Homo sapiens: one gene and its partner. The protein of the gene in region 1 interacts with the protein of each later gene in a pairwise test. Each region holds a gene or a part of one and is shown in the gene's direction. Other genes may lie near its edges.

Region 1 (3,753 bases):
TTATTTATTTATTTATTTATTTATTTATTTATTTTAGAGGGAGTCTCAGTCTTTCACCCAGACTGGAGTACCTCTGCTTTTATGAAGCCGCTAATCCAGTGCCAGGATCTAAAGCAAGCAGCTGGCTTCTACCAAGTTCCTGCCATCTCATTTCATCCTCTCCATGCCTTCCATTTTGTAGGTGAGGGGAAGGAGAGCCTTAGAGAAGGAAAGTGACATTTTAAAGCTCACACAGCTAGAAAGCAACTCATGCATCCATGTCTTTCTGATGCCAGAACCCAGCCCCTTGCCACTGTACCATACTGCCTCTTGCCAAGGCCACCTGGGCTAGCCATTTCCAAACCCAGCCTTCCTGCTGCCCTGGAGGCTGGGTTCCTGCCAGAAATTGAGCTAAGCCCTGGGGGAGGACATGGGAGTTCTGAAAAGTTAAGCAGCCTGCCTCCCCTGGAAGTGTCACCGGAAGATGAAAGAACTCTTGTCACCTGACCCAAGGAAGCCAGTCCCATGGCCCAGGTGGTCAACAGGAATGACCCGCAACTGGTTGGCTCGGGCAGCCTGCCCCAGCTGAGTAAATGGCTCCACTGGCACCCAGCTGCTCAGGCCAAAACCCTGGGGAGCATCTTGAATTCCACACATTCCTGCACCCCCACATCCTATCCACCAGCAAGTCCTGCCAACGTGTGTTCCTGTACCAAATGTTCACTGGGATCTTGCTATGAATCAGGTGCTGCTTTCCCTCCTGGGGTCTATCCCCTACCCACACCCTCACCACCATCACAGCTGTGTCTCCTTCCAGCCCCTTCCACAATAGGGATCGTTGGAGTTTTCCTTTCCTTGACTAGGGCTACTTCCCAGTAGACAGCAGTCTCCGCAGGGACAGGGGCATCTCTGTTTTGTTCACTCTCACGTTCCTGGCTCCCACAGTGGTGCTGGCACTCCATAAATTCATACTGGACAAATGACCAGTGATCCTGCCCACGTCTATCCTTGGCCCTAACGTGAACCTTCCCTTGTTTGCCCTAGGATCTCACAGATCCACTCTCCCCTTTGGAGCTCCTCTGTCCAGAGGTCCTGGAGACAGGGAACACTATGCCTGTGCCGGTCACTATGGGGTAGCAGGATAAATGCTGCACGCAGGTAAGACATCTCTGGTGCCTTTCAGGGGTCTTCATGAATCCCCCCAGTGCAGGTGTGTCTGCAGGTCACGCTGTGAGGCTTCTCTTTCTCTGGCATTTCAAGGCCTCCAGTGCATCATGGCAGACTCTCCCTGGGTCTCTGTGGGCCCACATCTGACCCTGTGAATCTCTGGGCAGGTGTGTCTTCCTTCTTTGCATTCATCAAGCAGCGCCAGGCACTGTCTCAAGTGCTTGATACGCATTTTCTTTTTTTTTTTTTTTTGAGACAGAGTTTCGCTCTTTTTGCCCATGCTGGAGTGCAATGGCATGATCCCGGCTCACAGCAACCTCCGCCTCCTGGGTTCAAGCGATTCTCCTGGCTTAGTCTCCGAGTAGCTGGGATTACAGGCATGCGCCACCACGCCCAGTTGACAAGCATTTTCTTGTGTGATCCTCGCAGCAGTTCTCTGTGAAGCAGGCATTGCTATCCTACAGGTTGGGAAAAGAGGGCCAGAGAGGATCAGTGACTTGCTCACGGTCGCGCGGCCTGGAAGACATGGAGAGCTGGACCAGCACGCACAGTCCCTAACCACTGGGACGTGCTGGCGGGGGCTACCTCCGTGAGGTGTGTGTCTCCGGTCGCCCCGCCCCCGGTGTGTGCGGAGGAGCAGGCGGGGACTACAAGTCCCGGCAGCCCCGGCGCGGGCGCTGCGAGGGCCGCAGAGGGCCGGGCGGGGCTTGCGGCGCGCACGGAGGGACTGCGGCAGTGTCGGAGCCGCGCCGAGCCTGGTGGCCCAGGTGCCCCGCCCGCGTCAGCCCTGCTCCAGCCCCGCGCTAGCCCAGCGCCCCTCGCCCCGGGCCGTCCGGACCGCGCCCCCGCCCAGGGCCTTGCGCACGCCGGGGCCCAGGCCGAGGGCCGCAGCGCCGGGGCCGGCGATGAGCGCGAGGAGCCGGCATGAGCGCAGGTGAGTGCGGAGTCCGGGTCGGCCCCGAGCCCGGCGCGGTCCCCGGCCCGCCAGTTGTCGTCACCCCTTGGAGGGAGAGGGGAGGCGACGCCCCCCACCGCGGGGTCGCGAGCCCAGGAAGCGGGACCTGGTTGGGGATCCTGGCCCGTCCCCTCCCTTTTGACGGGGACTCGGCCCCGGTTTCTTCCCAGAGACGCCGGGGCTGGGGATGGCGCCGCCGCTCGCAGCCGGTCCCTCCCCTCCCCTGCACCCCTCAGCCGCGGGATTGGAAGCCGGGCGCTTGTGCAAGAGGGTCCTGGGGCCGTGCGGGGACGGGGAGGCCACCCCACGCCCACTTAATCGGATCCCACCCCGAGTGACGGATGTCCAGGTGGGGGAGACGGCTGCATCCTCGGGCCTCTGGGCAACCCCTCTGGGCTGAATGAATGAATGAATGGCGTTGGGGGAGTCGGGACTCCATTTCCTGGGTAGATGTCCTGGGCCACAGCGCCACTCCTGACCTCCTGCCTCAGACCCCAGAGAAAACCCGTCACACCCAGGGCCAAGGGCCACACCCTCCATGCAACCCATCCCTGGCCAGATGTCCTACGCCCACTCCTCCAGGGTCTAATTTAAATCCCACCTGCCGGGAATGGGGCCAGTCCTCCTCCCCTATCCAGAAAGGTCTCATCTCAGTGTCTGTCACTCAGCCCCCAGCCCCACAGCCTAGAGTGCACCCCCCGGCGAGGGAGGGGAAGGAATGAGGAAAGACAGCCCCTAGAATCCAGATCCAAAGATGGGAAGATGGTTCACACACACTCCCGCCTCAGCCTGGCAGAAGACAGGAGCTCCCCGCCGCCGGGAACCACAGCCAGGGAGGAGGCAGCCGCCCTGGGCCGCTGCCAGGTCACCAGCAGGAAGCCAAGGCTTCCGCAGGAAATAAGAGGTCCCAAATGGCTCTAGCCCCTCTGATCCACAGTGCTGGTGACACTGCCCCGAGCTGTGACCTCAGACGAGGTTCAAGTCCAGTCTTGGCCCCTCATAGCTGTGTGACTTTGTGCTTGTCAATCTACTCCTCTGGGCCTCGTTTTAAATGGGAATCCTAATCTGTACTTTTCATGGAATGGCTGTGGGAAAGAATGTGCCCATTCAGACACACTCATTTCCAGCTTCTCCCCTTTCAAGCTCTATGACCCTGGACAAGGGATTCACATGCTGTTCCTCAGTTTCCCCAGGTGTACAATGGGGATAATAATAGTCACTACCCCAGAGGGTTGTGTGTGAAGCTTCATTGAGTTAGCACACTGAAGGGCTTCCGCAGGGCATGGTGAGCACTCCATGGGAGCTGCTGTTCATCAGAAGAGCAATGACAGGCCAGGCGTGGTGGCTCACGCCTGTAATCCCAGCACTTTGGGAGCCTGAGGCAGGCGGATTACTTGAGGTCAGGAGTTCAAGACCAGTCTGGCCAACATGGGGAAACCCCGTCTCTACTAAAAATACAAAAATTAGCTGAGTGTGGTGGCATGTGCCTGTAGTCTCAGCTACTTCAGGAACTGAGGCAGGAGAATTGCTTGAACCTGGGAGGTGGAGGGTGCAGTGAGCTGAGATCTCTCCACTGCACTCCAGCCTGGGAGACGGGCAGGGGGGAAGGGGGGAACGGGGGGGGAAGACTCCATCTCAAAAAAAAGAGCAAT
Region 2 (3,753 bases), on another chromosome or scaffold:
TAGGGAGCCCAGGATTTCTGAAGGAAGTGACTGAAGAGTGAGTAGGAGTTAGTGTGGTGGCACCATGGGCAAAGACAGAGTAGCGAGAGAGAATGTCACGTAAAACTGGGTCTGGCTATGCGCCCTTTTTGTGTTCTTTGGCTTAAGTTGAGTTTGAATTTGTGGCTCTTAGAAGTATGTAGATATGTAGGAGCCAGTATACAAAGTATTTATGTAGCACCTACCAAGTCCAAAGACCCTATGAAGTTCTGAGATGGATGAGGGAGGTCTATAGTGTGATTGACATCTGCCTTTAAGGATCTGCCAATGAATTTGGGAAGATGAGGCATACATTCACACATACAGTAGCATGGTTACCAGCACTGTCTGTAGAGTCAGACAGATCTAGGTTCAAATTCTGGATCTGTTCTTTACTAGCTGTGGAACTGTAGGCAAGACATTCCAAACCACTCTTGAATCTCTGTTTCCCTGTGGCAGTGGTTCTCAAAGTGGGGCATACTTATCACCTGCGAGCTTGTTGGAAATGGAGATTCTCAGGCCTCACTCTGTAGGCTGTGGGTGTGGGGCTTAATAAGTTCCTGGAGAGATTCTGACGCAAGGTCAAGTTTGAGAACCACTGCTTAATGGGCTGGTCATGAAGATTAAATGAGGCAATATATATAATTAACATTTTCAGGTGTTCAATAAATGGTAGCCATTACTTACCAGCAACGTTATACATCATATGTATATATGTGGGGGGGGAGAGAGAGAGAGAGAGAGAGAGAGAGTGTGTGTGTGTGTGTGTGTGTGTGTGTGTGTGTGTGTGTTAAAGGGGAGTGGGAGCAATGTGAAAGCTAGTTGAGCTGCAGCAATCTGAAGCAATTCCTTTCCCCCATTGTTAGGGGACAGAGCCAGATGTTCTTTGCAGAGTCCTCACCAGCTCCTTAAAGGCTTAACAGACGTTTTGGGTAGCCATGCTCCTTCCCTGGACTCTCTTCTCTGTGAGTCCCCGAGTGCTGACTTATCTACAGTTCTAGCCAGAGTTGTTTAAGGACCACAGGAGTTGTACCCTGTGTGCCCAGAGCGGTGGCTAGGCAGTTTAGGGAGGAGTGGTGTGAGAGGCTTCAAAACACAGACCAGATTACCACCACATTCCGCTGATGATCTCTTTTTCTCTAGCGTGGGTATTGGTCTGTGCTTTTTCATAAGGAATTGCAAGAACCCCAAGGAGCAGGTGCTGGGTAAGACAAAAAGATGTCGCACTGCCATACCTCCCCTGGTAGCATCAGCCTTCCTGGCCTGGTTTCACTAACTAGTCCAGCAGGGGCTGTTTGGGGGAAGTGAAGGCTTTAAGTTATGAGTTTAGAGGAATATGGCTATTTCTAGGCTGGGTGCCAGGGAGAATATTTTCTTTCTAGCTTTCTCAGCAAAGATGCCATGATGAGAAGCTAAATCATGTCTAAGTTAATGGGCATATGATATCAAGGGAAGATTTGGTTTAAGCTTCCAGAATGAGCTCAATGGGAAAATTGGAGCAATGTTCAAAGAAGGATTGAGAAGCTGTGCTTTTATCATACTTCCTTAGCTATACGAGGACTTATATCTAAGCTTTAAACAATAAATGTTTATTTATTACTGTGTTGAAGACAACATTCTGGAACTATAAGGTGGACTAGATGGCTCCTCAGAACAGCTTTCTAATTTATATTCAAGGAATCCAGGTCCAAGGCTGATGAGAAGTACCAAATGTCCACATCAGTAAACTTTGATAATTTCTCCTACCTACAGAGCAAACTAGTAAGGCTTAAAAATGTGTGTGAAATCACCAAAAATTCCATTAAAGGCACATAATATGTTGGTGGTATCAATATGATACACGTACGTGCCTCTTTGTGGCAGGCACTGTATTAGGTTCCAGAGATCCTAAGATGAATGGGACACAGGCCTGACTCTTAACAGAGCTCAACACCTGAGATAAGTGTCCAGCACTTAAGCGTGGCCTTTGACATACATACCTTAGATGGTAAAAGATGTTATGATAAAGAGCCTGGGGGTGAGAGTTCATAGGTGACATGAAGTTTGAACAGGAATAGAAATTGCCCAGCAGATGTTCCAGATGGGGGTTACTCAGGACCTCTCAGGCTGAGAGAATAGTATAGGCAAAGTGGTGAAACAGCATGATAAATTTTGAGAATACTGACTAGTTTAGTGTTACCATTTTCATCAGTACACATTTCCTCCCCAGAATCAAGGAAAGAAGGACAGAGGACACGGAGTGGTAGAATGAAATTCTTTAAGTTGCTCCCTGGAGGTGCTTGCTACTCACTTTCTTCAGTGGCCCTGGGCCTTTTGAAAGACTGATGAATAGGTACCAAGAATGCACGGCTCCCCTCCTGTGCCTCAGCCCCGTGCCAATTGTGGGGAAAGGGAGCAGCGAGTGTCTGGGGAAAGAGTGGTCCCAGAAGGTTTGATAAGAGGCTAGAAGCTTAAGCAAAAGCAGGCAGGGAAGGGAAATGACCAGTGTTACCGAAAGGTATGAACAGGGGAGATATTGAAGGTGTTTGACCAGAGCAGAAGGTACATTGGAGAGAAAAGGAAGGACTAATTTTATGGAGAATCTTGAGTGCCAGGCAGAGAGATTTAGTTATAAGCACCTGAGACCTTCTCTTGACGCAAACACCAATTTGATCCCTCCCACTTCAGATGTCTTTGCCTGCTGGGAAGTCTGGTTTTTTAGAGGCAACTGCAGATTTTCAGGGGGTGGTTTGTGAATGGTGTCTTCTTCCTGGCTTTGGGCATGATGACGGTTGTAGCTTTGCTAAATATAGCCAAATCTAGAATTCAGAAATGAAGTCCAGAATAAGCAATTGCCATGGTCAAACTCTTTCTTTCAGTCTTTCTAACAAAGTAAAGCTCATTTAATAACAAATAATGATGAAGAGAGAGCAGCAGTTTCACGTGACTTTTGAGTGGGAGGGTATGAGGGGAGACATACACTTGTACCCTGGTAGCTAAAACGCCATGTAGAGTACACAAGAAAGGTTTGATAAATATTAACAAAACACACAAAAAATATTACTGCATCAGAGCCGTCATTTTAACTTGCAATATTTGAATGTTGACGCTTCGGAAAGGGGACTAGTACCACCTTCATCTTGCACCCTTTCAAGGATGCATGCCTTCTGAGCCTACTTATGAGGTAACTGTGACATCCGCATCTGAAAGAGAAAAAAATGATAATAATAGAAACGTATTGTCTATTAAAGTAGCATCTAGCACTGTGAGCTAGCAGAGACTTGCCTCCGGTCTATTTTATGGAGCCATATTTTGGTGTGGTGGAAAGAACACTGCATTATGAATTGGGAGATCAAGGTTTGTCAGTTCATTCACTCCCTTATTCAGTAAATGTTACTGAGCATTCATTATGTGCCAGGCATCATGCGGAGATAAATGAGACATGGCTGTGCCTTGAGGACCTCACAGTCATAGGATTTCAGATATGTGAGCAAATAGCTGCAGATGCTGCGCTGGAGTCATGTAAAAGAGCTGGGGAACAGACCCAAGGCAACAATTTTGTGGGTTGGGGAGTAGTCAGGGAAAGCTAAAGAAAGGTGACATTTGAGGTGTGTCTTCAAAAATGAGAACTTATTGCTAGATGGACAAGGTAGAAGAACATTCTAGGCAGAGAGAATAACATGGCCAAAGACACAAAAGCAGAAAAATAACTGCTTACTGGGGAGCTGTATGTTTTGAGATAGCGATAATCTACTA

The links. The genes of interacting proteins can lie anywhere in the genome.
Region 2: the proteins of ATP13A2 (region 1) and AAK1 interact in a two-hybrid assay, tested with the Homo sapiens proteins (one study listed by BioGRID and IntAct).

Annotation. Positions count from the first base shown.
Region 1 is NC_000001.11:17,010,056-17,013,808, reverse strand, and holds the start of ATP13A2 (polyamine-transporting ATPase 13A2), read left to right. Parts: upstream 1-1,880; 5' UTR 1,881-2,070; coding exon 2,071-2,080; intron 2,081-3,753. UniProt on the Homo sapiens protein: ATPase which acts as a lysosomal polyamine exporter with high affinity for spermine. Also stimulates cellular uptake of polyamines and protects against polyamine toxicity.
Region 2 is NC_000002.12:69,637,071-69,640,823, reverse strand, and holds part of AAK1 (AP2-associated protein kinase 1), read left to right. Parts: intron 1-3,753.